Homo sapiens: one gene and its partners. The protein of the gene in region 7 purifies or fractionates together with the protein of the main gene of each other region. This does not show direct contact. Each region holds a gene or a part of one and is shown on either strand. Other genes may lie near its edges. The genes, in order: ETFB, CALD1, NDUFA5, HMGA2, LAD1, IDH2 and TMIGD1.

Region 1 (4,188 bases), on a different chromosome or scaffold from region 7:
TCTTCACACTCCCCTTGTAGGATCCTCCTCTAACCTCCTGTTCTTCCTGGGTTTCCTACCTGTGTTACCAAGGCAGACCCAGGCACTGTCCTTGCCTCCTCCCTGCCCTCCCTCCCCATGCTAAGCCCAGTCTCTCCTGCCACATCATGTCTCTGCTCTGTCCTGTCACCTTTGGCTGAGGCCTCATTCTCCCCCATGTGACCATCACCTCGGCCTCCCAGCCTCTAAACTCACCCAAAAGGATCTTTCTTCTTTTTTTCTTTTTGAGACAGAGTCTCGCTCTGCTCCCAGGCAGGAGTGCAGTGGTGCCTGGAGTGCAGTGGTGCGATCTTGTATCACTGCAACCTCCGCCTCCCAGGTTCCAGTGATTCTCATGCCTCAGCCTCCCAAGTAGCTGGGATTACAGGCAGGTGATACCACACCCGGCTAATTTTTATATTTTTAGAAGAGATGGGGTTTCACCATGTTGGCCACGCTAATCTCAAACTCTCGACCTCAAGTGATCCACTGGCCTCGGCCTCCCAAAGTGCTGAGATTACAGGCGTAAACCACCGTGCCTGGCCCAAGAGGATCTTTCTAACACCCAGAGGGACTCTGTCCTCCCTGCTCAAACTCTCTGTCAGAAGGGTCAGCAAAGTCCCAAGCTGCTCAGCCTGGAGTGGTGAATGCCCTGGGCCTGGCCAGCTGCTGTCTCACCCCGTATCTCCACCACCCTCCTCCCGAGCAGGGATGAGCAAGGGGGCACAGGGAGGGCTGACCACAGCTACCTGTTTGCCCAGCAGCACCAGGTCCACCTTCTCCTTCTCTGCCAGCTTGGCCAGGACCCGAGCCACCTGCAGGGGACCCAAGCGTTCTGCTTCTGCTGGGGGCACCTCCACGTGGATACCTCGGTCTGCACCCATGGCCAGGGCGGTACGAATCGTCTCCTGCCAAGGACAGAGGGGCTTGACTTGGCTGCTATCCTCAGGGGGACCTAGGAGTCTGGCTCGCAGCCCCTCCTTCCTCAGACCCAGGAGTCCAGGGCCCCATCCCCTCCTTCCTCAGACCCAGGAGTCCAGGCCCCCATCCCCTCCTTCCTCAGACCCAGGAGTCCGGGCCCCCATCCCCTCCTTCCTCAGACCCAGGAGTCCGGGCCCCCATCCCCTCCTTCCTCAGACCCAGGAGTCCGGGCCCCCATCCCCTCCTTCCTCAGACCCAGGAGTCCGGGCCCCCATCCCCTCCTTCCTCAGACCCAGGAGTCCGGGCCCCCATCCCCTCCTTCCTCAGACCCAGGAGTCCGGGCCCCCATCCCCTCCTTCTTCAGACCCAGGAGTCCAGGCCCCCATCCCCTCCTTCCTCAGACCCAGGAATCCAGGCTATCAGCCCATCCTCCCTCAGACCCAGGGGTCCAGACTTCCAGCCTCCTCCTCCCTCAGACCCAGGAGTCCAGGTCCCAGCCCCTCCTTCCTCAGACCCAGGAGTCCAGGGCCCCATCCCCTCCTTCCTCAGACCCAGGAATCCAGGCCCCCATCCCCTTCTTCCTCAGACCCAGGAGTCCAGGGCCCCATCCCCTCCTTCCTCAGACCCAAGAGTCCAGGCCCCCAGCCCCTCCTTCCTCAGACCCAGGAGTCCAGGCCCCCATCCCCTTCTTCCTCAGACCCAGGAATCCAGGCTATCAGCCCATCCTCCCTCAGACCCAGGGGTCCAGACTTCCAGCCTCCTCCTCCCTCAGACCCAGGAGTCCAGGTCCCAGCCCCTCCTCCGTCAGACCCAGGAGTCCAGCCCCCTCCCCAAGACCTTCATCACCTGGCACTGTGCAGGCCCACAGCTGACGGCGATGACCTCCTTCACCAGCTTCTTCTCCTTGAGCCGCACAGCCTCCTCCACCGCGATCTCACAGAAGGGGTTCATGGAGTGCTTCACACCATCCGTGACCACACCGGTCCTGTCAGGCTTCACTCGGATCTGCCCAGCAGGAGGGGAAGGGGTGGGGTCAGGAGGAAACAGGCAAGAAGGTGGGGGCCTCAGCGCCAACCCTCTCCCAGGCTGGATGAGGACAACGACAGCCTGGAAAGGGGCAGGGCCTTGTCCGGGGTCACACAGCTCCAGGGACAGAACTGGGTTAGAGTTTGTAGGCAGGGGCAGGTCACCCTGTCTCCTTCTCTCATCCAGCCATTCCTGGGTACCAGGGACATCTGACTTGATCATCCCTACTGTTGTCACTGCTCCTCTCAGGCCTGAAAGAGTGTTTCTCAAATTTACAGTATTTATGGTAACCCACAGTGAGAGGTACATTTTACTGTATCTCCAAGTGTATATAAATACATAATACACTGATACATAAATACAAATGAGGAGAAGAAAAGGAAAAACCAGTTAGGTAGACAGTTAAGGGTGGTCCTCAGAGGAGCAGCCTGCCTGAAAAATCACAGCTACAGGCAACAATAGAGCAGCCTGGGGAAAACTCAAGCTGCCCAGCACAGAAGCCTTTTGTTCTTTGCGTGACTGACAGGCTCCCAGGAAAAGTTCCCTCCCCTTTTCAGGCACGTACATGGTGGTCTCTGTGGGAACTTGCACGGGGAGGGGCGGAGCTTACCTAAAACAAACCCACGGTTACAGAAACAAGAGAAGCGGAGCTTTGTGCTTGCCTAAAGACGTACCCACAACTACATAGATAACGGAGAGTTATGCAGATAGCTTTACAGATAAGATACTCAAACAGCTACAGAGATGAAAGGAGTTTCTTATAAAAGCTTTTGGTGTCTTTTGCTGTGCAGAAGCTCTTTAGTTTAACCATCAGAGTGAACAGGCAACCTACAGAATGGGAGAAAATTTTTGCAGCCTACTCATCTGACAAATGGCTAATATCCAGAATCTACAATGAACTCAAACAAATGTACAAGAAAAAAACAAACAACCCCATCAAAAAGTGGGCGAAGGATATGAATAGACACTTCTCAAAAGAAGACATTTATGCAGCCAAAAAACACATGAAAAATGCTCATCATCACTGGCCATCAGAGAAATGCAAATCAAAATCACAATGAGATACCGTCTCACACCAGTTAGAACGGCGATCATTAAAAAGTCAGGAAAGAACAGGTGCTGGAGAGGATGTGGAGAAAAAGGAACACTTTTACACTGTTGGTGGGACTGTAAACTAGTTCAACCATTGTGGAAGTCGGTGTGGTGATTCCTCAGGGATCTAGAACTAGAAATACCATTTGACCCAGCCATCCTATTACTGGGTATATACCCAAAGGATTATAAATCATGCTGCTATAAAGACACATGCACACATATGTTTATTGCGGCACTATTCACAATAGTAAAGACTTGGAACCAACCCAAATGTCCAACAATGATAGACTGGATTAAGAAAATGTGGCACATATACACCATGGAATACTATGCAGCCATAAACAATGATGAGTTCATGTCCTTTGTAGGGACATGGATGAAGCTGGAAACCATCATTCTCAGCAAACTATCGCAAGGACAGAAAACCAAACAACGCATGTTCTCACTCATAGGTGGGAATTGAACAATGAGAACACATGGACACAGGAAGGGGAACATCACACACCGGGGACTGTCGTGGGGTGGGGGGAGGGGGGAGGGATAGCATTAGGAGATATACCTAATGCTAAAGGACGAGTTACTGGGTGCAGCACACCAACATGGCACATATAAACACATGTAACAAACCTGTACGTTGTGCACATGTATCCTAAAACTTAAAGTATAATAATAAAAAATAAATAAATAAATAATTTTTTAAAAAAAAAGCTTTTGGAATCAACTGTAAAAATGGCAACCCGCTTGGGCTTCCCTCTCCTCTGTGGAGAGCTTTCTTCTTTTGCTTATTAAACTTTCGCTCCAACCTCACCTTTTGGGTGGTCTATGCTCTTTAATTCTCTTGGTTGTGAAACGAGCTCGGATAACACCTTAGACAACGTGACCAGTGACCCTGACCTATTTCACAAATGCCACTGCAGTGTAAGGGTCAGTGACCAATACTGACCCTGCCTACACACACACCATACTCTGACATTTTCTACCCTTTTTCGGAAAAATGCCAGCCCTCTGCCTGGATGTCATGATCACACATGGTCACAACCTAATTTGGAAAACACCAGCATGAAAGACCTCTTTGCTAAACAGACAAGGGAGGTAAGGGAGGTGGGTGGCAAACCCCACCCATTTGCT
Region 2 (4,188 bases), on a different chromosome or scaffold from region 7:
TAAGGAAGCCAAGGACGGGGGTAGGGTGGTGGGGGTGGGGTGCGGGGAGAAAGAACTTTATGGAACGATTTCCACATTAAGTGGCACCCTAATGCTGAGGTCATGCACATAGGCAGAGGTGGTGTGAACAAAACTTTTGCTCCTGTTTTGAGCATAGCTGCTTATGTGTGATTTAATTACTGTTCCCTTTGATATCTGCATTTTCTTGTAACTCGTTTTCTCTAAAACATGACATAAAAATCTCAATTCAATGAGCAAGATATAGCGATGCAAATTATACCAAGGGTTTTATAGAAAGTGCAAAATGGTTTTTTGATTTTTTATTTTTGAAGGTAGAAATTAAAAGATTTTTTCCGATTATAGAAAAAAATACTCATTATAAAAACGCTCAGAAAATAGAAGAATAAAAATAAGCACCCACCACCCAAAGATAACTAGCAGTAACACTTTTTCCAGATATTTATCTATGTATATAATATTCAAGATAAATGCACACACGTGTGTATATTTATATGTAGTATATACGTGTGTGAGTATACTTATAATTTTACATTGATTCTTGCACTGTGCATAAGAATGTGTCATAGCTTGCTTTCTATGCCAATAAATATAAGCCTATAATTAATGATATTAGATTCTACTGGATGGATGTATTAGGACTTATTTAGCCAGTCCCTAATGACGGACATTTTGATTGTCCAAAATGAAGACTGAGTGACACCTAGTGGAATCCATAGATGTTTCTATAGGCATGTGTTTTGCCGGTCCAGTTCCTGTACAGTAATATGATGAACACAAAGAGAGAGCAAACTCATTTTTGGAAGGAAAGACCCTAAATTGACTGAGAGAGGAGTCACAGGCCTGTGAACCTAGAAGACCCTGAAAGAGCCTTTGACAGCAAGGTTTTGAGGGACCCTTTAACCTTGTTTGAGTTCAAAATAAAAGTTTACCTGTAACTGGCATGAGCCTAGACCAATAGTTCTAAATTTTTTAACCTAAGCCCTTAGTAAGAAATAAATTTTACATAATGACCCAGTACACACCTGTATATATTTTTATAACTGAAACAAGTGTGTCAAGAAATGGTACTTTGTTTTGCTCTATGCAGTGCACTCTGATATTTTCTGTTTTTTTTTTTTTTAAATGTTGATTACAATCTACTAAATTGATTTTCTGGTCTGCAGCTTGAAAATTATTGTTCTGGAGGACACAGGATATTCAGAACTACTTCAGTGTTTAAAAAGCATGATATATAATATACATATATATATTATAAAATCAATATTGCACAGTGTATTTCTTGAGCCCATTTCTTGTTTTATTCTTCCTCTTGTTTCACAGCTAGAAACACTGTACCATTCTTTACATGTAGTAAATGATGTTAGGGTGTGATAATTCCTTTGTTCCTTAGACAAAAGTGTCAGGAATAGGATATCTACGTTGACATCTAGTTAAGAATGACCTTACTACTTGCTAATAAGTATTTAAATGGCAAAGCTGTATCTCTGTCTCTTAAAGACTACTTATAACAAGGGCTTCAAGCCTAAATTAAGCCACTAAATTCTGCTTAGTGAAGTCCCAGGCAAATCCAACTTAGGTGAACTCTGTGTTAGTGAAAACTCTGCATTCTACTGAAGTTCTACTTTGAGTATCGACATGTTTTAAAATTATCAGTGTTCTAACTGTATCATACAGTAAATTTATTAAAGAAACTCAGGGGTCACAGTAGGTGCTAATGATATGTCTTCATCTTTTTATAGTTGTGTAAAATACTAAAAATACCAGTTCCAAAATAAAATTTTACCATAAGGACTCTTGGGATAGCATTCTGTCTGAAGTCTTAATATGTTCCCAATTCTGCAATGAAATCCCTGTGTATCCTCCTTAATCACAAAAGAAAATTCAACATAATTTCAATTTTAGTTCTTACTTACATAAAAACGTACCCATTTCTTCCTGTTTTATAAGCTGTTCTACCTGATGAAGCTTCTGCTTCATCTCAGGCACGGAAGGTAGCTAGACCTAGACTGTAGAAACTCTAGAGACAGAGGTAGGAAACGCTTCTCTCAGACTCTATCCTGAAGGTTTGAGGTAAGAGGTGGAGAGATGGAATAACATGTTCTATTTCAGTTTATTCATTGTTTCATAACAAAACGTATTTAATTTCAGGTATAATTATAGTTACAAGAAGAGTACAACTAATAGATAAGCATTAGAATCTGATCATGGCTCGACTGCTTTCTAGCTTCCAAAAGTTTGAGTATATTATTCTCTGTCTTACCTGTGGTTTCCTTGTTTGTAAGATGGGGATAATAAACCTAACCTGACATCTTCCCAGTTATTGTGACTGTTAAATGAAGTAGTGGATATGAAAAGGGTTTAGAGAGCATAAAGAATGACATGTAAGTAATAACCTTAACCACATCATACCAAGCTAATTTCATAATTTTAAGTCTGTATAAGGAGTATTCCAGTTGTATTGGGGTCAAAGAGCATAGAAAATTCACAAATTGAAGCCATAGGTTAATGCAGTCATTAAGGACTTTCCTGGAGCAGCTCTGTAAGAATAGACATAAATCACTGTGTTTAGCTCTTAATCAAGAGGCAATGGGTAATTTCGTCTGCCAGAGATCAGCTGCTAGAGTCAAGCTCAAGGCACAGTTGTGGACAGATGGATTTACTTCAATGCCTACCCTTAGTTACAGCCACTTTTTCCCATTCCCAGCGCCTGAACCTTTCTGTCTTCCCTCCTGATCCATTACTCCAGGCAGACCCAAGTTAACCAGTAACTTACGGGAAAGGACTAGTAAGGCCACTACAAGACTTTTGAACTCATTCACAAGTAACCTTTTGGACTACATGCCTCCCTTTCTAATAACAACTAATATTTATACTGTAGATGATATAGAAATTATAGTATATCAGTATGATATCAGTATGATATCATACTGATATAATACATAAGCCCATGCAACCCACTGAGGTAAATAGAATAAATAGTATTTACCCATTTTTCCATGTTGTAGCATGTATCTTCTTAAAAATTGTGGTAAAAACAAACATCACCTAAAATTTACCATCTTAAGCATTTTTAAAAGTACAGTTAAGTAGTGTGAGGCATATTCATATTGTTGTGCAACAGATCTCCAAAACTCTTTTCATCTTGCAAGACTGAAAGACTACACCCATTAAACAGCAACTCTTTATTTCCTGCTACCGCCCACCCTCTGCCTCTGGTAACTACAGTTCTATTTCTGTCTCTATGAATTTGACTACTTTAGATCCCTCATATAAGTGGAATCACACAATATTTGTATGATTTCCGTGATTGGCTTATTTCACTTAGCATAGTATCTTCAAGGTTTATCCATGTTGTAACAGGTAACAAGATCTCCTTCCTTTTTTTTTTTTTTCTCTTTTTTTCTTACAGACAGAGTCTCGCTTTGTTGCCCAGGCTGGAGTGCAGTGGCACAATCTCGGCTCACTGCAACCCCTGCCTCCTGGGCTCAAGCAATTCTCCTGCCTCAGCCTCCAGAGTAGCTGGGACCACAGGCACACGCCGCCACGCCCGGCTAATTTTTTTTTTTTTGTATTTTAGTAGAGACAGGGTTTCACTGTGTTGCCCAGGCTGTCTTAAACTCCTGAGCTCAGGCAATCCGCCCGCCTCGGCCTCCCAAAGTGCTAGGATTACAGGCGTGAGCCACTGCACCCGGCCTCTCCTTCCTTTTTAAGGCTGAATAATATTCCATGGTATGGCTAGACCACCTTTTATTTATCCATTCCTGCTATGATGGACACTTGGGTTGCGTCCATCTCTTGGTCCTTGTAAATAATGCTGCTATGAACACGGGTATACAAATGTCTCTTCAAGACCTTGCTTTCCATTCTTTTAGAAGTGTATCAGAAGTGGGATTGCTGGATCACGTGGTAGTTCTCTTGTTGATTTTTTGAGGAACCTCCATACTGTTTCCATAGCAGCTGCACAACTTTACAATCCCATTTTACAGTGCATATTTGTCCCATTTTACAGCTGAGGAAACGAAGCACAAGTGGAAGAGCAGAGGCTCCTGGACTCTGTGATTCCGGGCAGACCCCTTCCCCAGCCTACCCCCTGGGCTAATGAGAGGCAGTGGGTATTTAGTCGGGGATGCAGAAGCCGCAGACCGACCTCCCCTTCCTCCAGGGAGA
Region 3 (4,188 bases), on a different chromosome or scaffold from region 7:
TATTGCTAATGACCTTTTTGGAAATCAAGTCATTTACTAAATCAGTATTTTTCTTTCTTTCTTTTTTTTTTTTTTGAAACGGAGTTTCGCTCTTATAGCCCAGGCTGGAGTACAATGGCGTGAACTTGGCTCACTACAACCTCCACCTCCTGGGGTCAAGTGATTCTCCTGCCTCAGCCTCCCAAGTAGCTGGGATTACAGGTACCCGCCACCATACCTGGCTATTTTTTCTATTTTTAGTAGAGACAGGGTTTTGCCATGTTGGCCAGGATGGTCTCAAACTCCTGACTTCAGGTGATCCGCCCACCTCAGCCTCCCAAAGTGCTGGGATTACAGGCGTGAGCCCACCCAGCCTGAATCAGTATTTTTCAAAGTGAGGTCCGAAGCACTGCAAATTTTTTTTTTTAATTTTTCTTATTTGAATTTCTGTAGAAATAAACACATATAATCATTACATCTGTATGATCAAATTTAACTAAATACGGTCATAATACTTCAGTGTTCTTGCTTCTGATTATGAATGAGTTACGACATAAAGTCTGCATAAAAGGCTCAACCGAAAAAGTAGCAAGAGAATTGAGTCAATGCATAGCATGTACTGAAGCACACTGAACTTAAACTTCAGTATAGAAATCAGTAAGAAGTTGATCCTCTCCAATTTAAATATATAATGCATATATTAGTTTTTAATATAGCATTTTAATTAAGTTTTAATATGATCTAAAATTCAGGTTTTAAATTTTCATCTTTCCTGACAAAAATGTATCAGTGTCTAGAGAAATACAGATGAGAACAGGGGACTATTAATATAGAATAAAAGAAAAAATGTTATCAATAGGGTGGACACTTAGTTTATCATCCAAACTTGGACACTTATAACAGTGAAAAGATACCTATTAATCATTACGCCAAAACACAGGTATGAACCAGAACAGTTGAAACAAACAAGACATGATCACTCCAGGAGTAAGTCTCAATAATTACAAGTATACAAACCCTTCTCCTAAAGAGCAACCTTTTTTTTCAATTAAAAAAAAAAAATGTGTGCAGTCCTCACTATTCATAATAGCAAAGACTTGGAACCAACCCAAATGCCCAGTGATAGACTGGATAAAGAAAATATGACACATATACAACATGGAATACTATGCAGCCATAAAAAAGGATGAGCTCATATCCTTTGCAGGGAAATGGATGAAGCTGGAAACCATCATTCTCAGCAAACTAACACAAGAACAGAAAACCAAACATCACATGTTCTCACTCATAAGTGAGAGTTGAACAATGAGAACACATGGACACAGGGAGGGGAACATCACACACTGGGGCCTGTCAGTGGGTGGGGGGCCAGGGGAGGGATAGCATTAGGAGAAATACCTAATGTAGATGACGGGTTGATGGGTGCGGCAAACCACCATGGCACGTGTATACCTATGTAACAAACCTGCACGTTCTGCACATGTACCCCAGAACTTAAAGTATAACTAAAAAAAAAAAAAAAAAAAAAAAATTGTGTGCAGTCCTAATAAGGGAACAGGGTAAAGCAAAAATAAAAAAGCAGATAAGCTAGAAGTCCACCTTTCTTCATGGTCCAGGACACACAGTCCTCCTCCACAAATAACTCACAATCTTCCTGTGCCCAGCTATCATCAGACCCTCGCCTGATAGCTCATTGCAACCTAGGTGTTATCAGTACTGCACAAAGCTCTCTTCAGCCCACAGCACAAGCACCATCCTTTAAGATCCCCAGCAAGCCTTTGCTACTTGCATTCAGCTCCTCTTTTGCTGACTTGCCAATAGCTTTCTTGCAATGTATTTTCATACTTTCTCTAATAAATCTGCCTTTCTTTACCTCAAATGTCTTGGTAAATTATTTTTACCACCACGCAACACCAGCCCCAGACAGTCGCTACCCGCGAAAAAATATACTCAGTACTTCCATGTACAATACCACACTGTTTGCGTATAAAGATAGACTGGACATGGATCACACTCCAATATGTTTAAGGTACTATCGAGTGTACTTATCTGTTCTCATGCTGCTAATAGAGACATACCTGAGACTGGGTGATTTATAAAGGAAAAGAAGTTTAATGAACTTACAGTTCCACATGGCTGGAGAGGCCTCACAATCATGGCAGAAGATGAAAGAGGGGCAAAGGCTTGTCTTACATGGCAGGAAGCAAGAGAGCATGTGCAGGGGACCTGCCCTTTATAAAACCATCAGATCTCACGAGACTTCTTCACTATCACAAGAACAGCATGGGAAAAACCCACCCCATGATTCAATTACCTCCCACCAGGTTCCTCTCCCACGACACATGGGGATTATGGGAGCTACAATTCAAGATGAGATTTGGATGGGGACAGAGCTAAACCATATCACAGGGTAAGCTACAGAAGAGGAAAAATAATAAAAATGATAAAAAGAAAAAATAAGTGTGTGTTTGGCAGGGATGGGGAAATACATAGAGCAAAGAGATATTATAATACTTAGCAACGGTTAAGGGTGTGCTAACCAGAACATAACTGCTTGAGTTTACACTGGCTCCACTCCTTAGGTGCACTGGACAAGTTATTTCCATCTCTGTGCCTTCATCCCTCATCTGTAAGATGGGAATAATACTGCCTCATAGGGTATATACAACTTAGAACAGTACCTGGTACACATTAAGTTTCACTAAGTATTAGCATTATTTTTCTATAGCAGAAGAAGAATTCACTTCAGCTGAGACCAGAGAAGCATTCATATTTCAAAAAGGTGGCATCTAAGATAGACCCAGAGGGATGGTAGATCATAGAAACTTAAATGATATTGGAAAAGGCAATTACATACAGAATACATAGAACTGAATGGCAGAAAATACAGCAAACATAAGGAAGTGGTATATAGTTCTATTTTCTTGAACTGTGCTGTCTAAAACAGTAGATGCTAGCTAAATATGGCTACTGAGCATTTGATATGTGGCTAGTCCAAACTGAGATGTGTTATAAGTATAAATACATACCAGAGTTGGAAAATTTAGTATGAAGAAAAACACTATAAAATACCATTAATTTTTTTATTATATACTGAAATGGCAATATTTTAGATTTGTTAGGGTAAATAAAATAATTAAATTTTACCTTTTTCTTCATTAAAAAATTAGTCCTAGAAAATTTTAAATTACATACAAATATGGCTTACATTTAAGGCTCGCATTATGTTTTTAATGGCCAGCACTTGGTTAGAATACAGTAGCTCCCCTTTACCCATCCGTGGTTTCATTTTCCAAGGTTTCAGTTACTAATAGTCAACCTCAGTCAGAAAATATTAAATGAAAAATTCCAGAAATAAACAATTTATAAGTTTTAAACTATGTGCCGTTCAAAGTAGTGTGGTGAAATCTCACACTATCCCACTCTATCCTTTCTTCATCACAAGAGGGTGGTACAGTACAGTAAGATATTTTGAGACAAAGAGACCACATTCACATAACTTTTATTACAGTATATTGTTATAATTGTTCTATTTTATTAGTTGTTATCTCTTTTTTTTTTTTTTCTTTTTTGAGACAGGGTCTCACTCCATCACCCAGGCTAGAGTGTAATGGCATCATCACAGCTCACTGCAGCCTCAACCTCTGGGGCTCAAGCAATCCTGCTGCCTCTGCCTCCCGAGTAGCTGGGACTAGGTGCACACCACCACACCTGATTAATTTCCACATTTTTTGTAGAGACGGGGTTTTGCCATGTTGGCCAGGCTGGTCTTAAACTCCTGGGCTAAAGCAATCCACCCGCCTCAGCCTCCCAAAGTGCTGGGATTACAGGCGTGAGCCAGCACGTCCAGCCTGCTTATCTCTTATTGTGCCTAATTCATAAATTAAACTTTATTATAGGTATGTATGAAACAAAACATAGCATATATACAGTTTGGTACTATATGTGGTTTTCAGACATCCACTGGGGATTTTGGAATATACTGCTGTACAGGACACATAAGGAAATGCATAGGAGATAAAGTTAGAGAAAATGTCACATTATAAGTGGTTCTGCATTCCAAGTTAAAGCATTCGGGCTTTATTCTGTGGACAATTAAAAGATTTAGGAAAATCATATGATTAGATTAGGAAAATTAGCTTCATTGTAGTGAGTTAAAAGGACTGAAGGAGAAACAAGGCAGAAAGGCCAGTAAGGAGGTTGTTGCAA
Region 4 (4,188 bases), on a different chromosome or scaffold from region 7:
AATAAATAAAAGGGTAAAGATATGCTCACACAGACGTATACACACATGGACAAATGAATTATTCAGGAAAACTTTAACTTCTGATTTCTTTTATTCAGGTAACTATATGAAACTGATTCAGGGACAAATTTTGAGCACTCAGATTGGAGTTCTGAGGAATGACTAGAATCATTACACAATGGTCATGCATAGTAATTAGTTTTAATGGAATATTAAGTAGATTGAAGAATAATTATCTTCTCTTCCAAAAGTTCCAAGCATAGGAAATTGTGTTCTTATAAATGTCTTTGTTTTACATATTATATAAATCAATTTTCTACTGAATATGGTTTGAAATTGAAGTGATGGCTAATTTAGTAGTCATTCACTTGGTCTTGCAACATTCTGCATGCATTGTCCAGTTTCACACTGTTAATTTTCAAATCAACAGCTTTGTTTTCAAATGTCCCAAGGCCAATTACTGAATCCAAATATAAACTTTGTAAGTCAAGAAACTCCAAGCAGCAAGAAATTTTAAGTATATAACCATCAGGATTTCAGTGTGCATTGCAGCTCCTCTAATTTTAGGCTTCTTTCTTCTCATATACTTACCAGTCTTTGCAATGTATTTTGCATTGTGATGGGTCTCAGTTTACAGGAAAACACTCACTTTGTTACTCATAGAAGACTTCTCATATCTATTCTGGTCAGTCTCACAGGGTATGTTTATCTTACATGTTATGAACAATATAACTTTTTCTAAAAAGATTTGCATTGCAAAATCCTGACGAACATATATGTTTTGTTAGAACACAATATATGCTTAATAAACAAATGTTTGAAAATCATATTTATATAGAATAGTAACATACTCAACAAATTCTGATTTGAAAGTGAAAATACCTTAAGTTTACACATGCCATGAACGATTCATCAATGTCATTCATTATTTTGCAAGGTATTCTCTTCTCCAGATGAAGCGTAATTTATAAAACTGAAGAAAAATAAGTCATGTTATGGGCAAATGTATTTATTCATTTTTATTACAAGAGGGATTTTTATAACACCATTGTAGGAAATAATTGTGTCTGAAAGAATGAAAGATTCTGGAGAAGGAATCTTTAGAAAAAAGAAAGCCTACTTCTGTTTTGGAAATTGGAATAATGTATGCATACACATGAAGAATTTTCAGAAAGATGAGCGGCGTAGGGGGGTCATTTACAAATGCCTGTCACTAGAGTCACTAAAAATAAATCAACCCTTACTTAGGAATAGATCAACTTTAAAAATTTTGCTTTAGGTGGTAAACTAGGCACTAGCTTCAGCTTCCCTTTTCTCAATACAAATTTTGTTAGTCAGTGGTAAGCTTTTTAAAATGAAGCGGAGGCGATGGGAGCGTTTCTATCTATTCATCCAAAAAACATGAAATATAGTAAAATATGGGAGACAATTCATTTTCCTTTTTAGTATTAAATTTCAAATTACTTATTTATGGTGAAATTTAAAGATTTCTTCCTAGGAGATATTATCATGATGTGTTTTTCAGAGGAATTATACCACAGCTTAAATGCGTGTCAGCTATCTAACAAGATATTCATTTGTGCATCTCCTTAGAATAAAAGTAAATTAGGTAAACTCCACACTTACACAACATAGAAAAACTCCTTGGTAAAATCAGTCCATTTTAGTTAATTTATAAATGAGATAAAATGAAACAAATGTAAAGTATTCATATTAAAAATACCAGATTATATATTGCCATTTTTAAATAACAAGGTTACTTAGAGCTATTTTAAAGTTTATTGATTAAATAAGAAACAATTAAATCTAAACTCTAAGAAGCAATTAAATTTAAATATATTAAAAATATGCTCCTCAACTCTGTTCAAAACTGTTAAAACAGACAAGAACTCAGAGTAACTTCCTAAATAACTTTATATGTACCATTAGTTGCTATGGCAGTTTACATACATTACAGTTAGTACCCACAGTCACAAAGAAAATCACACAAAACATTAATCCCCAAACGATGAGCATATAGTCCTTTCTAACAAATACTGTACATGGAGTACCCAAAACCGGTGAAAAGGTATATCCAAATTTAGTTCTGATTTTTGAAACTTTGTTCTCAATTACTACACAAACCTACAAATACAACGCAGAAACTTTTTTTTCCAATTTATTTATAAAGTCAAAAAAGTGACTGGTACTTCTCTATACATGCATTAACCCTGACATAGTTCCTCTTTGCTAGCTTAAACACAGCCAACCTGAAGTTATCTTAAACTGCAAGTTTAAACTTATTAAGATAAACACTGAATATTACACTTAACTGGGTTCCATTCTGCCCAAAAAGAGATATTAAATGAGCCAAATACTTGTTTTAAAAAGTCTCATTGTCCAATTCAGACATTTCTATGTCACTTGATGAAAAGGCATTTTGAGATTATGATATACTATACTGCAGGTTTATTGTAAAACAAACAGTATACTTTATTATCACAATTAAAGCTGCAAAATTCATGGAATTTTTCCACTATCCCACAACTAGATTTACTTCTAATTATCGTCTATTTGGCAAAGTACTTTAATAGGGGGATTTGGTTTGCAGTAGCCATGTAATAAGCACAAAGTAAATCAATCTTTATCATTTTTCAGAGGAAATTGCAAAAACTTTACCACCAGGCAAAATCTATAGTTTTGATTTGTTTTTAACTATTTACAACTGGTGCAAATATTAATTGTGTCATTTTCATCCCGCCCCCCCCGCAACCCCTTCCTTCCTCACTTCTACCCGTTTTAAGGTTCAAATTATTTGGTGGCTGTTTGTTTAAAAACAACACTGTTAAGTATCTTCATAAACTTTTTATGCTGAGCATCTGCTTACAAAAAAGGTTAACTCGCATCTAACTAATGTTAAATGTAAGAAATGAGTCTTGTGTTACCCAGTTGGGACAAATTCCTGGCTGCGGAGTTAGAATGGGAAAGTTACAGGCAGGCTCCTGTAGTCAGTCATTGATGAAGTTAGGAGAGCTTGACTTGAGAAATCTCACCTTTTGAGCTGCTTTAGAGGGACTCTTGTTTTTGCTGCCTTTGGGTCTTCCCCTGGGTCTCTTAGGAGAGGGCTCACCGGTTGGTTCCTAATTGTGAGGGAAAAAAAAATGCTGTTGTGGCAAGAATGTCTGAAAGAAATTGACCCTGACTCTTTAGCTATATTTTCTGCATGTGCTGCTCAAAAGAGCTGTTGGAACACGTTCAGTTCAAGCATAAATGGATGATGATGGTACAGAGTTTACAGAAAGGGGAAATAACTATACTTTTAATGCAAGGGTTCAAAGAGGAAACTCTATTTTGTATATGAAAACTAGATTCTACTTCAAACCTAAAATGGTAACAAAGACTGAAGAGGCATGTTCTAGAAAGAAAGTCATATACTTTTAAGGTGTAAAGTTTACAGGGCTATGCATTTGGCAACTCATAGGAATAATAGGCATTTTAAACGAACACCACTCTGCATTATACTAGCATTTCAAACAACAGAAATACGAAGCTACCATCACAGATATTTCAACAATCTTCCATATTGAAAAGGTGGCCTTTAATCATCTTTGTATACCTGCCTTCTAGGTGGATTATGATTCAACTGACACATTTTGAGTGAAATACTGGAGCAATTATTCAAGTTCTTCAGTTCAAAATAACTCCATTCCCCCTAAAATTTCCAAATAATTATAGTAAATCTATGGTGGGAGGTTTTGCTTGAATCATCTAGTTAATTGCTTCAATTCTCCACTTCCTTTTGGAGATGCAGGCATGGCCTCCAGTCTAAATTTAAATATCTTTTGATAAAAATAAACATATTTTCTTCAAAACTTTCTTTTGAGAAAACTCTTATGGGGGTGGAGTGGAGAAAACTAAAAGGAGGTAAAAGCGAGGAGGAATGGAGTGTCTGGGAATGAGAAATGGAAGCAATCACTTGGTTTAGCAAAACTTTAAATGGCTCCTATGCCAAGTAGTAAATACTCAAGTGGTTAAGAGAATGCGATGATTAATATTCCAGATCCCAAATATTTATCCAGTGAATCATCTATTCACATTTCATTCAGATTCGGTGATTAAGTGAGACTAATTAACTTAAAACCCATGAACGTCCTCAATGAAAATTCGCATCCCATTTAGAGAATTCGGGAAGGTTCCCTGCAAGCTTCT
Region 5 (4,188 bases), on a different chromosome or scaffold from region 7:
TGGGGGCACCAGTCGCTATTGGGCCACCTCTCCAGGGCCTGGCACACATTAGAGGCATGATACCCAATGATTGAGTGAATGACCCAGTGAACAGAAGAACCAAGAATAAACACCAGGACAAAGCAAGACGAGATTTCCCCAATCCACATAGTTTGTACTATTGGGAGAGTGGCAGGGCAGGGAGCAGTAGGAGAGCCTTGCTGCTCTCTGTTCCTCCCCTCCCCTCCTAGACAAGTCTCCTAGGTGAGGCCAGGAACTGATGAAGGCAGGTGTGGACCTCCCTGCAGCCCAGGGCCAGCCCTGCCTGTCCGGTCTTCATGCAGCCCTGGCCTTGCCCACTAGGTGGGGCTGCTCATGCTTACTGGCACCTACCCCCCAGGTTACTAACCTGTTCTCCTCTGCTGAATACAACCTTGTTTGTTCAGGGCCACCCATGGGAATCCAAAGCTCCTCTCTATCCAGGGGACCTTCCTACCTAACCTACGGCTCCTATGTTGTAATGGATGCGGGCTTCCTCCACTTGCCCTCCAGTGGCTCGCAGACCAGGGTGCCCAGGGCTCTCACCCGAAAGGAGATGGTCCTGGGGCTGGAGCGTTTGAGGGAGCTGCTGTAGGTTCGCTGTGTGGGTGAGGACATATCTGCCTCTTCCTCCTTGCTGGGGATTTTCACCTGGATGGAGCAGGGGGAGTGTCACATAAGAGGTCTAGGGCCCATCAAGCCGGGGCAGCCATAAACCCCATGGCTCACCCCAGGAGCTGCAGGAAGAGGGGAGAATGAGACAGCCCTGTGCCTTCTCTCCTGCCTCCTTCATCTGCTGTGGGAGTGGCTCACAGACAAAGTCCCTTGGGGCCAGGGCACCAGGCAGAGCTTTCCAGGGGAGCTTCTAGAAGGATCTGAGGCTCCCCACTAGTCTGCCGGGGTCCTGGAGCCCAGGCCCTGGATGAGGATATGGTGGGGGGCACCAGATGCTCCCTGCCCCACAGCTGGTGCCCCTTTAAGCTCCAGCAGCCTGCCCCATCTCAGCCTCCCTGCTCTGACCATGGCTAGAAGCAGGCAGGGAAAGAAGAGACTTCCAAGGCCAGCCTGCAGGTAGGAGGATGGAGGCAGCCAGGGAACCAGGGACTACCTGGGTGGGACTGGCCGGCAGTGCCAGCCAGGTGGCAGAGTAGAAGGGTGGGAGGGACGGGACACTGCCAACCTGGAGTGTGACGGGTGGGAGGCGGGAGGCCACAGTCGGAGGGTCTGAAGCCCCCTGCTTTGCCAAAGAGGGCAGGTTCTTCCCAGGGAGGGCCCTTCCTCTCTGCTCCTTGGTGGTGGCTGGGCTTCCCCCAGAGGCTGGCGGCTCCTGCGCCAGGGGCTGCTCTGAGGCTGTGGCCCTCTTTGGGGCCGGCTTAGCATCTGCAGTTGGGCTCTTCTCTGAGGCCAGTGCCTTCTCAAAGATGGAAGCTTTCTCAGACACCAGCCTCCTTCCTGAGCCCAGTGCCATCCCTGGGGCCAGCGACTTCTCAGAGACACTGGTTTTTTCTAGAACAGACTTCTTCTCTGAGCTGTTTCTTTTCTCTGACACTGCTATCTTCTCTGATAGAGATGTCTTCTCTGAGGCCAGCACCTTCTCAGAGATGGAGGTTTTATCGGAGACCAGGCTCTTTTCAGGTGCCGTCTTCTTTGGCATGGAGGACTTCTCCAAGACTGGGGACTTTTCTGGAACCCCTTTCTTCCTCTCTTCTGGCTCCCTGCCCACCAAGCTCTCCTCCTCCAGGGCCCAGGGGCCCCGCTGTTCCCGACTCAGTCTCCGGCGAGGTGGGATTTCCAGTTCCTTCTTGGAGACTAGGGGTTTCTGTGTGGCCTGCACAGGGCTCAAGCTGTTCCTCCCCTCCTCTGCCTCCAGCCTCTCCTGGATGGGGGCCTGTGCAGCCTCCACCACCTGCCGCCTCTGCCTCCGCTCCTGCCGTGTTCTGAGGATGCTCTGGATGTCCTCGTCCTCATCTTTGGAGGCTGGGGGCAGTGGCTTGGGCACCTCTGCTTCTTCCACGCTCGGTAGTCTGAATCAGAAGATGGGAGACAGAATCAGAGGATAGAGGTGGAAGATACCCTAAGTATACCTAACCCAATGGAGATGCTGCCAGGGCCACCAAGGAGGAGGTGAGGATGTCAGGCCCTGGCCTCCCCGGCTCACCACCACCTTTATCCACTCGATATATTGCACTTCCAAGGTATCATCTGAGCAAAGCACACTATGCTTTTTAAAAAGCTTATAAATTCCTATGAAGTCCAACGACTCCATGTTCAGACGTAGTCAACAGACTCTGAATAACTGCTTTAATATGTGCCAGAGCCTGCTTGGGGCATTGGGGATCAAAAGGAATAAGCACAGTCTCTGCCCCTTAGATCTTAGATCAAGACTAGAGATGTCCAGGGATTTTGTCAAGGTCACACAGCTGATTCGTGGGGGAGCTGGGAGCAGAACCTAAGTCTTCCGATGCACCATTCCACACTCCTGTCAGTCTTGTGGGTGCAGCCAAGACTAGGTGACAGCCACAGGTACTGGTGCAGCCCAGCTCTGGACATCCTCCAGAGTCTGCTGCCGGGCAAGGCTGGGGGAGGGGAGGACAGGAGAGGAGAGGGTCATCACAGCCCTGTTCTCCCTTCTTGGGGGACCCAAAGAAACAAAAGTAACATGAGAGGATTGTCCATAACCCACAGCACCTGGCCTCCAGCAAAAGGAGATTATTTTCCTTCCTCATCACCCTGCTCTCCATGTGCTTTCAGGCAAGTTAACTTACTGTCGGAGCCTCAGTTTTCACATCTACAAACTGGGCTTGTTAGGAAGCAAAATGAGACTCATGAGGGTGCCCAGGACAGTCCTGGCATGTAGGTGGCATTCAGTAAACCCCAGGCTCTTCCCCCACCTCATAATCCCAAAATCTAGATGGCAAAACTAGCCCCAAGGTTCTTCTCCTCAGAAGTAAATTATAGGCCGGTGCAGCGGCTCACACCTGTAATCCCAGCACTGGGAAGTTGAGGCTGGTGGATCACCTGAGGTCAGGAGTTCAAGATCAGCCTGCCCAACATGGTGAAACCCCATCTCTCCTAAAAATACAAAAATTATCCGGGCATGGTGGCAGGTGCCTTTAATCTCAGCTACTCGGGAGGCTGAGGCAAAATAGCTTGAACCTGGGAGGCGGAGGTTGCAGTGAGCCAAGATTGCGCCACTGCACTCCAGCCGGGGTGACAGAGCAAGACTCCATCTCAAAAAAAAAAAAGGCAGCTGGGCACGGTGGCTCATGCCTGTATTCCCAGCACTTTGGGAGGCCAAGGCAGGTGGATCATGAGGTCAACAGATCGAGACCATCCTGGCCAACATGGTAAAACCCCATTTCTACTAAAAATACAAAAATTAGCTGGCTGTGGTGGTGGGTGCCTGTAGTCCCAGCTACTCAGGAGGCTGAGGCAGAAGAATTGCTTGAACCTAGGAGGCGGAGCTTGCAGTGAGCTGAGATCGCGCCACTGCACTCCAGCCTAGCGACACAGCGAGACTTCGTCTCAAAAAAAAAAAAAAAAAGAAGTAAATTATAGAGGGTCAGGGTTAGAAGAAGGCAGCCTGGATAATGGAAGGAGGCGGGAGCTTGACAGATCTGGATGGACATTCTGGCCCTGCCACTCTTGAGGTACGTGACCTCAGCAAGTCACCTAAGTACTTTTCAACCCTGTTACTCCACCTGTAAAATGGGTTAACAATACCTCTCTCTCAGGGACATTGTGTGGATTACGTGAGCTATGGCCATAAAATGTCCAGCACAGTATTGGCTCATGGATGGTCTACAAATAGTAGCAAGCATTGTTATGAAGAGGATGGAAGCTGGCAGGACTGAGTCTGGGGAAGGTGGGGAACTGGAAATTCATCATCACACCCTTCAGCCTCATTTCCTGGGCCCCAACTCCCTGAGCAGACTGAATATGCTGCACTTAGTCTGAGGCAACCAGTCCATCCCCATCCATCAGGATAGAAACCTGAGCACCTACCTCTCAGAAGCAGAGGCCTGCCGGTCTCCATTCTGGCTGAGCCTGGGAGCCTCATCGTCCGTGGTGGAGCTCAGGTTGCGGTGCCGCCGCCTGCGCTCGCGCTCCTGTTCCTCCTCATCCTCCAGAGTCCTCTGCCGGGCAAGGCTGGGGGAGGGGAGGAGAGGG
Region 6 (4,188 bases), on a different chromosome or scaffold from region 7:
GGCCCCTGGGGTAGAGGGGCATTGTGAGGCCCCATGCCCTGCACTCACCTTCTGGTGCTCCCGATAGTGGCGGGTGACGGTCCCATGAGCGGCCTCAGCCTCAATCGTCTTCCCATCAGGGCAGACCAGGACGGACGTCATCAGGCCAAGGGAGCCAAAGCCTGGAGGGTAGAAAGCCTTTCTCTCAGGGCCTCGCCTCTCCTGGGGCCACCCAGCTGAGCCCTGCTGCCCTCTACAACCCAATATTGTAGCTGCCATAGTTCGTGGCTCTACTCAGCCTCCCCCAGCTGCAACTGGGAGGACAGGGACTGTTCCAGGTCTCTTCACCCTCCTGTGGGTCTCCAGGGCCCAGCACAGGGCTGGAGGGCACTGGAGGGTGGCTATCACCAGCACATTAACATCCATCTGTGTCACCAGCTCCAGGCGCCCCACAGCCTGTGGCCCACAGGGCCCAAGAGGCCACAGAGTCCTGTGGTCCCCCACAGCCTGCCACCCAGCCTGGCTCGTGACCCGGAGGCACATTCAAGGAAAACAATAAAGCTGTGGTCAGCTATTTCCCAACAATCACTTTTGCAGCTACTCTCTTAGGCCACTTTCAAGCTTTTTGATTAATTTCTGAATGCTCCCAAATCCACATGTCAACTCCAGCAAGCTTTTCTATTGTCAAGGACTCCAGGGCTTCAAAGGCACCCCCATGACACCAAAATAAGGATTGAAGAAAGAAAACATGGACAACATCTACAGGAAAATGCTTTGTCTATGAATTCTAAGAATTTTGGCTGTAAGCAATCCCTTCTCCATTTTACCTGCACCTTCACACCATTCCTTAGACACTTAAGGTTCATTTTCATGCCTCTGCCTCATCTGCTATGGCGTTTCATCCTTCTATCCTAGATGGGAATTGTTCGGTGAGAGGATCCCCACTGAACTTTCCAAAGTAAAGCCAAAGGTTTACACAAAGTAACAAGACTCTGCTTTTCATCAGAACCCGTCCTGGGCTTCCCTTTTCCCCATACCAGGAGCTGCCCTGGTAAGCTTAGGTTTCTCTTTCACTCTCTATGTCCTGCCTGTTTCCCACACCTACCACCTTTCCTGCTCTTGTTCCCAACACAATTGGCCCATTTCTCGCTGTTCTTCTCTAATGGTCTCACCTATACTTTATTTTTTATTTTTTATTTTTTTTGGAGACGGAGTTTCACCCTTGTTGCCCAGGCTGGAGTGCAATGGCGCAATCTCGGCTCACTGCAACCTCCACCTCCTGGGTTCAAGAGATTCTCCTGCCTCAGCCTCTCAAGTAGCTGGGATTACAGGTGTCCATGACTGTGCCCGCCTCCATGCCCAGCTAAATTTTTTTGCATTTTTAGTAGAGACGGGGTTTCGTCATGTTGGCCACGCTGGTCTCAAACTCCTGACCTCATCACCTATACTTTTTACTGCAATCTGATTTGTCTTTTAGGACACCCTAGGGCTTGGGGGTTTGCAGGCTTCCCCAACATTCTCTTCCATCCATTAGGTTCACTATGCAAAATGCATTCGCTGTAGTTTAAAGAACCTCCAGTCCCGCTTGATCCCATTTTCCTACTGGAACCAAAGAGTCATGAGGCTCCATCATGGACTGGAGCAACCTTAGGGCTGTCAACCTAGCCCTGGAATTCCTGTGCCCTCCTTTCTCTCTAAGAGCAGCCTCAGTCATACACCAGTCCAAACCTAATTTGTGATCCTCTCTCACTCAGATGCCAGGGAGCTCCTGCCCCCTGCTGTCCACAGAGGACCCTGCAATGAGTCCTGCTCCACTAGAGTTTTCTACCAAAAGGGTCTGAAAATCCCTCCAGCCAGAGAAGACCAACAGTCCACCCCCACAGGGAGCAGCGTCCTCCCAGCGTACCCTGGGCCAGGATGTCTGACTGCACATCTCCGTCATAGTTCTTGCAGGCCCACACAAAGCCACCCGAAGACTTGAGGACCTGAGCCACCATGTCATCAATGAGCCGGTGCTCATACCAGATCTTATTCTTGTCGAAGTCGGTCTTATAGTGCCTGGGAGTAAAAAGGTCTGTTATGGGGAGAGGGCAGAAGGCTGACAGGTTGGGGATCCCTCCCTGAGCCTCGGAGCTGAGCCAAATGCACTCTAATAGCGACCTTCCCAGGGTAGGATGGGAACAGCATGGGGGGAAGGGAAGAAAGGCCACAGAGTACATGGATGAGGCTTTACTTGTCAAAGATCTCCTGGAAGATGTCCTTGAAACGCCCATCGTAGGCTTTCAGTATGGTGTTCTTGGTGCTCATGTACAGCGGCCATTTCTTCTGGATGGCATACTGGAAGCAGCTGTGCGCAAAACCTGAGATGGACTGCAGGGGGAGAGACAGGGCCCTGGCGTGGTGCCCTAGCCTGGCGATTGCCGGCAACCTCCCACCTCCCAGGGCAAGGCCCAGCTCTCCAGGAACGGTACCCCGCCGCCCACGCGACTGTTTAACACCAGCCTCCGTGCAGTGCACACGATGTTTCTGCTGGCCCAGCCTCTCCCTCTCAACTTTGCTTTGTAAAACACCGCCTTTTTTTTTTTTTTGGAAAACACCGCCTTTTTTTTTTTTTTTTTGGAAACAACTTTTTTTTGGAAAGCACCGCCTTAGACTACATGTGGCTGGGGCAGGGCTAATTCCCAGGCCTAGCGCTGGGGTTGACAGTGTGTCCCTGGCTTATCCAATCAGAAGCCTTTCTCCCCAGGGCCTCTGTGATTGGCTCAGAGGTGGTCATGTGACTCAGCCTGGCATTGGAGCTGGAACTGGGGATAAAGAGGCATTCTCTTCTGATAGGGTAGCCAAGCAGGCAGGAGTACGCCTGGAGCTGCTCGTGGCCATTTCTTTTCTTTTCTTTTCTTTTCTTTTTGTTTCAAGAGATGGGGTCTCACTGTTGCCCAGGCTGGTCTCAAACTTCTGGTCTCAAGCAATCCTGCCTTGGCCTCCCAAAATGCCGGGATTACAAGTGTCAGCCACCATGCCCAGCCCTGGTGGCCATTTCTGCCTCTTTGTGGCCTAAGAATGAGGCCATTACAGAAGAAAGGAAAGCCACGAGACAGAGATGAAGAGACAAGCTGGGAGAGGAGGGGCCCAGGATGCCCAAGCCAGCCTCACCTCGTCGGTGTTGTACATGCCCATGCCCACGCCGCCTGCGGGGAAGTTGTACACTTCCCACTCCTTGACACCACTGCCATCTTTTGGGGTGAAGACCATTTTGAAAGTGCCGGCCCGGTCTGCCACAAAGTCTGTGGCCTTGTACTGCAGAGACAAGAGGATGGCTAGGCGAGGAGCTCCAGTCGGGGGGTGCCCAGGTCAGTGGATCCCCTCTCCACCCTGGCCTACCTGGTCGCCATGGGCGTGCCTGCCAATGGTGATGGGCTTGGTCCAGCCAGGGACTAGGCGTGGGATGTTTTTGCAGATGATGGGCTCCCGGAAGACAGTCCCCCCCAGGATGTTCCGGATAGTTCCATTGGGACTTTTCCACATCTTCTTCAGCTTGAACTCTGTGAGGACAGAGATAATAGTGGTCCCACTGCAGCCGCCATCTTTCAACCAGAATTTGAACCCCAAGCAACAACACAGCCAGACGGGGGTCCTAAAATTCTTCATGAGGAAGGCAGTAGAGTCTAGAGTGCAAATGTGTGGGCTCTGGAGTCTGCCAATTTTTTTTTTTTTTTTTTTTTTTTTGAGACAGAGTTTTGCTCCTATTGCCCAGGCTGGAGTGCAATGGCGCGATCTCGGCTCACCACAACCTCTGCCTCCTGGGTTCAAGCGGTTCTCCTGCCTCAGCCTCCCGAGCAGCTGGAATTACAGGCATGTGACACCACACCAAGCTAATTTTGTATTTTTAGGAGAGATGGGGTTTCTCCATGTTGGTCAGGCTGGTCTCGACCTCCCAACCTCAGGTGATCCACCCGCCTCGGCTTCCCAAAGTGCTGGGATTACAGGTGTGAGCCACCATGCCCAGCAAGTCTGCCAGTTTTAATGGTGAGGCTTACAAAAGTGGCTCAACCAAAGCTGTAAAAAAAAATTACTGGAAAAATAACCAGCCTAAGTGTTGTCGTGAGGACGAAATGAGCTCGTGTGTAAAGGGCCTAGAACGGTGCCCGGTCCATGCTAAGTGCTCTGTTGGCCATTATGATTCCCACATCACACATGGAGGGAGTACAG
Region 7 (4,888 bases):
TTATTTTTCTGATTCAGAAGCAAGTAACAAAAGCTAAAAAAGAACTTTATCTGTCATAAACCTGTACCCCAGATAACATTTGTTAATATGTTCTGTAAACACATTAACCTTCCTTTTAAAACACTTAAGCTGGCCGGGCATGGTGGCTCATGCCTGTAATCCCACACTTTGGGAGGCTGAGGCGGACGGATCACCTGAGGTCAAAAGTTTGAGACCAGCCTGGCCAACATAGTGAAACCCTGTCTCTACTAAAAATACAAAAAAATTAGCCAGGCATGGTGGCGGGCTCCTGTAATCCCAGCTACTCGGGAGGCTGAGGCAGGAGAATCACTTGAACCTGGGAGATGAAGGTTGCAGTGAGCCAAGATCACACCACTGCACTCCAGCCTGGGCAACAAAGTGAGACTTCTTCTCAAAAAAGCAAAAAACTTAAGCTACTTGTAAAGATAATGGTATTGTTGTCTAGTATTTTATTAAAATATGGAATATTGAGTGGTTGTCATCTCTGGATGAAAGTATTTGGGGGGATTTGTACTTTTCTTTTTTTTTTTATAGATTGCCTGATTTATTTTACAATGACTATGCATTACTTTTAAAATCAGAAAAGAGTGGTAGGAGAGCAAATGCTGGAAAGATTTTCATGTGAAATGGTATGTTCAGATAAACAGATGATTATTTGGGGTAACATTAGTAATAAAATGCATTAAAATGTAGGAGGATTCTGGTGGTGGCTCTGGAGAGAATAGAATACTTCACCTTGTCTTGTAATAATAAAACCCTAAAAACAATATTTTTCCATTTGATTTTTTTTTTTTTTTTTTTGAGACGGAGTCTCGCCCTGTCGCCCAGGCTGGAGTACAGTGACGTAATCTCGGCTCACTCACTGCAAGCTCCACCTCCTGGGTTCACGCCATTCTCCTGCCTCAGCCACCCGAGTAGCTGGAACTACAGGCGCCTGCCAGCACACCAGGCTAATTTTTTGTATTTTTAGTAGAGATGGGGTTTCACCGTGTTAGCCAGGATGGTCTCGATCTCCTGACCTCATGATTCACCTGCCTCGGCCTCCCAAAGTGTTGGGATTACAGGCGTGAGCCACCCGCCTGGCCTCCATTTGATTTTTTATTGTTAGTTGACTCCTGTACTGTGAGCCATGCTAACTGTGTAGTCATTCCAATTTGGAATTTAAGGATATATCCAATGCCCATTGATCACTTTTCTTAATCGGAAATTTTTCTTTATCTAAAAAGAGGCCAAAAAGAACTTTAACTTACTTGTCATCTCACGTGGCAGAAATAAAATTACTAAGAGAAGAAATCTTCCCATTTGCATTATGACACTGCTCTTCCATGCCATCTTTAATGAGTTAAACTCAGATCTACTAAGGGAAAAATAGTGCAGTTGGTTTTGTACTTTGGTCTGCAATGAGTTCGTGAACCTTCCTTCTGTCTATTATGCATTTAAAGTGAAGTCCCAGATGAATCATCCCAGCTATAACGGTACTACTTCTAGCTTTTAATTAAACAACCCTGTCTGACTAAGTTCAAAGTACATTTAGTAGTAAGAAATTTTTTTTAAAAGCAACATAAAACCACAGGAAATAGGCTATGACAGATAGAGCAGCGTCAGGGTGCCCTGGGGAAGATGAAACCAGTCTTCCCTAGAGAAACTGATAGAATTTCATTTTAGCAGAATGAAACTTGTCTCATTCTCAGACAGTCCCTACTGAACAAAGTAATTCTTGTTCTGAAAGTTTTTCTTGGGTCATTTTTGTAAAGATGTTCTCTGATAATAGAGAGTTTTTGAGACTACTCCAAATCCCATAGATTCAAATGGTGTGTACGTAGAAAAGCCTCAATTGAAACATGGCCTCTAGTTTAAACCATGTTAATCTTGTCTTTCTCCCACTATTCTCTCTCTCTCTTCCCCTTGACCCAATGGACTAAAAATAATAAATAATAAAGGTGTCCTTTCTCCCTTCTTGCTTTTGCTTCAACTCTCCCTCTCCCTAAGATATTCTCCATTTCCATCTGGGAAAAAAACATATATTCATTACTTCCTTTCAAGAGTACTACTATAAATATAGCGAACCACATACGGAAAACTTTCTGCGCAACAGGGACTGTGCTAAACACTTTACATACATCATTTCAGTCACAATTAAGCCTCCTAACAACCCTCCTGAGGTCGTTTCTATAGATTTAAAGAGACTATGTAATTTGCCTGAGATCCCACAGACAGTAAATGTCAAGGTCGGGATTTGAACCCAGACTCCCAAGACCATGCTCTTAACCACCCTACTCTCAACCACCCTACTACCCAATCTACTGCCTAGATTAATATTCTTTTCCTTTAAGAAGCTGCTGTTAGGCTGGGTGCAGTGGCTCATGCCTGTAATCCCAGCACTTTAGGAGCTGAGGCAGGTGGATTACCTGAGGTCAGGAGTTTGAGACTAGCCTGACCAACATAGTGAAACCCCATCTCTACTAAAAATGCAAAAAAAAAAAAAAAAAATTAGCCAGGCATGGTGGCGAGCGCCTGTAATCCCAGCTACTCGGGAGGCTGAGGCAGGAGAATTGCTTGAACCTGGGAGGTGGAGGTTGCAGTGAGCCAAGATTATGCCACTGCACTCCAGCCTGGGCGACAGAGTGAGGCTCGGTCTCAAAAAATAAAAATAAAAAATAAAAAAATAAAAAAAAGCTGCTGTTAATCTTTTCCAGTCCCTGGCCACTGGGAGTTCTCTCCCCTTAACACCAGTATTAATTTACAAGAGCTGAAATATACCTATACCTACTCTACTCCTCCCCTGTCCCAGGCGTGCCCTGACAGGAGTAAGTTTCATTCATGCCAGGCTCACCCTTTCTGGCAGACAAGCCTGCATCAATCTTTTCGTAAGATGCAATTACTACTAATATTGATTCTTTTGTAATTTTAAATATTTGCCAAAAAGATTTCTATCACAGTGTTGTAACAGTGATTACTGCAGAATGTGGTCAATAGTAGAGTTTTCTCAAGCGCTCTGCACTACAAGTACTCAATAAAAACTGAGAGTGCAGGCTTCTTGCCAGACCTCACCCAGCCCTATTAAGGGGACAAATCTATGTCTTCTCTTTCCCTCCACTCCACCGAGACAGCAACTTTTCAAAATGTATTCCCCTCACTTGGCTTGTTTTTAATCTGTATGACTCTCTACTTTCTATATAAGACAGTCTTACCACTTACCTCTTGAGCTCTGAGAAGCTGACTTCCTTGGCCAACTGTTCCTCTGCCTGAAAACCCTAAATGCTTTCCCTGTTACAATCCTTTATAATACTTGAATTTGAACGCTTTATGACAGCAGGGTCAAATAAATAAGATAACTTGGGTTCAAAGTCTGTTTTTCTTTATGGAGTCTTAGAGAAGATAGTAATTGGGAAAGACATCTTCTTAAGATCTAAGTTTCTATGTCTACCTCGGTTACTAGGTGGGGCCGGATATTACTAACAGGGATGTGTTGTTCCAAGAAAGCTTGAACTTGTGCAAAAATCTGTAGCGCATCTCACTGAATATTGTCATATTTAAGTAAGATGGCTGCGTTTTGATCATCTAGCCTGGGGATTGTGAAGGGACGAGTCCAAAGAGAAGTTTGACTTTAACAGAGGTCAAAACATTGGAAGATTCTACACAACTTAAATAATGCTGGAAAAGTCTTAGTTACCACTAGTAACCCAAGCCCAGTGCATAAGCTGTACCAAGCCAGGCATGGCAGGGAGCCGTTTTTTTGTTGTTGTTGTTTGTTTTGTTTTTTGAGGCAGGGTTTCACTCTGTCACCCAGATTGGAATGCAATGGCACAATTGTGGCTGACTGAACCTCTGCTCCCAGCCTCCCAAGGAGCTAGGACTACTGGCGTGAGTCACCATGCCCAGCTAAACTTTGTTAATATATATATTTTTGGTAGAGATGAAATTTCGCCATGTTTCCTAGGCTGGTCTCTAACTCCCGGCCTTAAGCAATCTGCCCACCTTGGCCTAGGGAACAGTTTTATCCTCTTGAGGCTCTCACCTGATTGGGAGATCCTTGCATTACACTATGTTTATGGTATTGTTAACGATGCAAATTTTATCTGCCAAGTACTATTGTTCCCATTTACACAAAAATATAACAGAAGAATATTTATAGTTATCTACACATTTTAACACACTGCTGAAGCACACCAGCAATCTGCCTCTTACTAGCTATGTAACTTTGAAAAGTTATTTAACCTCCATGAGCCTCAGGATCTTCATCAATACAATGGAAATAGTAATAGTACCCTCCCTACGGAGTCACTGTGAGGATTAAATGAAATGAAGCATGTGAATCTGCCGCACAGTAAGCTCTTGGTAAACAGTAGCTCTTATTACTATTATTATTAATATAGGCTGAGCAGGGCATCCTAAATCAACACAACCTCACTATAGCATTGTTCAAGCAAAAATCAGAGCTAAGAGCAGCTCCTGTTGGCTGGGTTGCAAGCACCACCCAAACAGGTTTTGAGTTTGCCTCTCCAGGGATCCAAGATTGTCATTTTAAAATGAATTTAGCAATGGAGTGATGTTTTGGTTCTTGGTGCCTCCAAAATAGACCCTGAGACAGAGCTTTGAGTGCCAATAGTTTATTTAAAGGTGATCTCGGCCGGGCACGGTGAGTGGCTCACTCCCTTAATCCCAGCACTTTGGGAGGCCGAGGAGGGTGGATCATTTGAGGTCAGGAGTTCGAGACCAGCCTGGCCAATGTGATGAAACCCCGTCTCTACTAAAAATAGAAAAATTAGCCAGGCATGGTGGCGGGCGCCTGTAATCCCAGCTACTTGGGAGGCTGAGGTGGAAGAATCCCTTGAGGCTGGGAGGTGGAGGTTGTGTTGAGCCAAGA

The links.
Region 1: the proteins of TMIGD1 (region 7) and ETFB purify together in Homo sapiens (co-immunoprecipitation; one study listed by IntAct). This does not show direct contact.
Region 2: the proteins of TMIGD1 (region 7) and CALD1 purify together in Homo sapiens (co-immunoprecipitation; one study listed by IntAct). This does not show direct contact.
Region 3: the proteins of TMIGD1 (region 7) and NDUFA5 purify together in Homo sapiens (co-immunoprecipitation; one study listed by IntAct). This does not show direct contact.
Region 4: the proteins of TMIGD1 (region 7) and HMGA2 purify together in Homo sapiens (co-immunoprecipitation; one study listed by IntAct). This does not show direct contact.
Region 5: the proteins of TMIGD1 (region 7) and LAD1 purify together in Homo sapiens (co-immunoprecipitation; one study listed by IntAct). This does not show direct contact.
Region 6: the proteins of TMIGD1 (region 7) and IDH2 purify together in Homo sapiens (co-immunoprecipitation; one study listed by IntAct). This does not show direct contact.

The regions. Positions count from the first base shown.
Region 1 is NC_000019.10:51,352,365-51,356,552, forward strand, and holds part of ETFB (electron transfer flavoprotein subunit beta), read right to left. Parts: intron 2,479-4,188; exon of another isoform or gene 2,275-2,478; coding exon of another isoform or gene 1,945-2,274; coding exon 1,786-1,944; intron 927-1,785; coding exon 768-926; intron 1-767. UniProt on the Homo sapiens protein: Heterodimeric electron transfer flavoprotein that accepts electrons from several mitochondrial dehydrogenases, including acyl-CoA dehydrogenases, glutaryl-CoA and sarcosine dehydrogenase.
Region 2 is NC_000007.14:134,943,272-134,947,459, forward strand, and holds part of CALD1 (caldesmon), read left to right. Parts: intron 1-4,188. UniProt on the Homo sapiens protein: Actin- and myosin-binding protein implicated in the regulation of actomyosin interactions in smooth muscle and nonmuscle cells (could act as a bridge between myosin and actin filaments).
Region 3 is NC_000007.14:123,551,151-123,555,338, forward strand, and holds part of NDUFA5 (NADH dehydrogenase [ubiquinone] 1 alpha subcomplex subunit 5), read right to left. Parts: exon of another isoform or gene 218-4,188; intron 1-217. UniProt on the Homo sapiens protein: Accessory subunit of the mitochondrial membrane respiratory chain NADH dehydrogenase (Complex I), that is believed not to be involved in catalysis. Complex I functions in the transfer of electrons from NADH to the respiratory chain.
Region 4 is NC_000012.12:65,826,932-65,831,119, reverse strand, and holds part of HMGA2 (high mobility group protein HMGI-C), read right to left. Parts: exon of another isoform or gene 4,146-4,188; intron 3,120-4,145; coding exon 3,033-3,119; intron 1-3,032.
Region 5 is NC_000001.11:201,385,137-201,389,324, forward strand, and holds part of LAD1 (ladinin-1), read right to left. Parts: intron 4,168-4,188; coding exon 4,024-4,167; intron 2,043-4,023; coding exon 1,199-2,042; intron 670-1,198; coding exon 565-669; intron 1-564. UniProt on the Homo sapiens protein: Anchoring filament protein which is a component of the basement membrane zone.
Region 6 is NC_000015.10:90,085,227-90,089,414, forward strand, and holds part of IDH2 (isocitrate dehydrogenase [NADP], mitochondrial isoform 1 precursor), read right to left. Parts: intron 3,522-4,188; coding exon 3,361-3,521; intron 3,277-3,360; coding exon 3,133-3,276; intron 2,350-3,132; coding exon 2,213-2,349; intron 2,038-2,212; coding exon 1,886-2,037; intron 162-1,885; coding exon 49-161; intron 1-48. UniProt on the Homo sapiens protein: Plays a role in intermediary metabolism and energy production. It may tightly associate or interact with the pyruvate dehydrogenase complex.
Region 7 is NC_000017.11:30,330,781-30,335,668, forward strand, and holds the start of TMIGD1 (transmembrane and immunoglobulin domain-containing protein 1 isoform 1 precursor), read right to left. Parts: upstream 3,278-4,888; 5' UTR 3,220-3,277; intron 1,379-3,219; 5' UTR 1,354-1,378; coding exon 1,272-1,353; intron 1-1,271. UniProt on the Homo sapiens protein: May control cell-cell adhesion, cell migration and proliferation, cell morphology, and protects renal epithelial cells from oxidative cell injury to promote cell survival.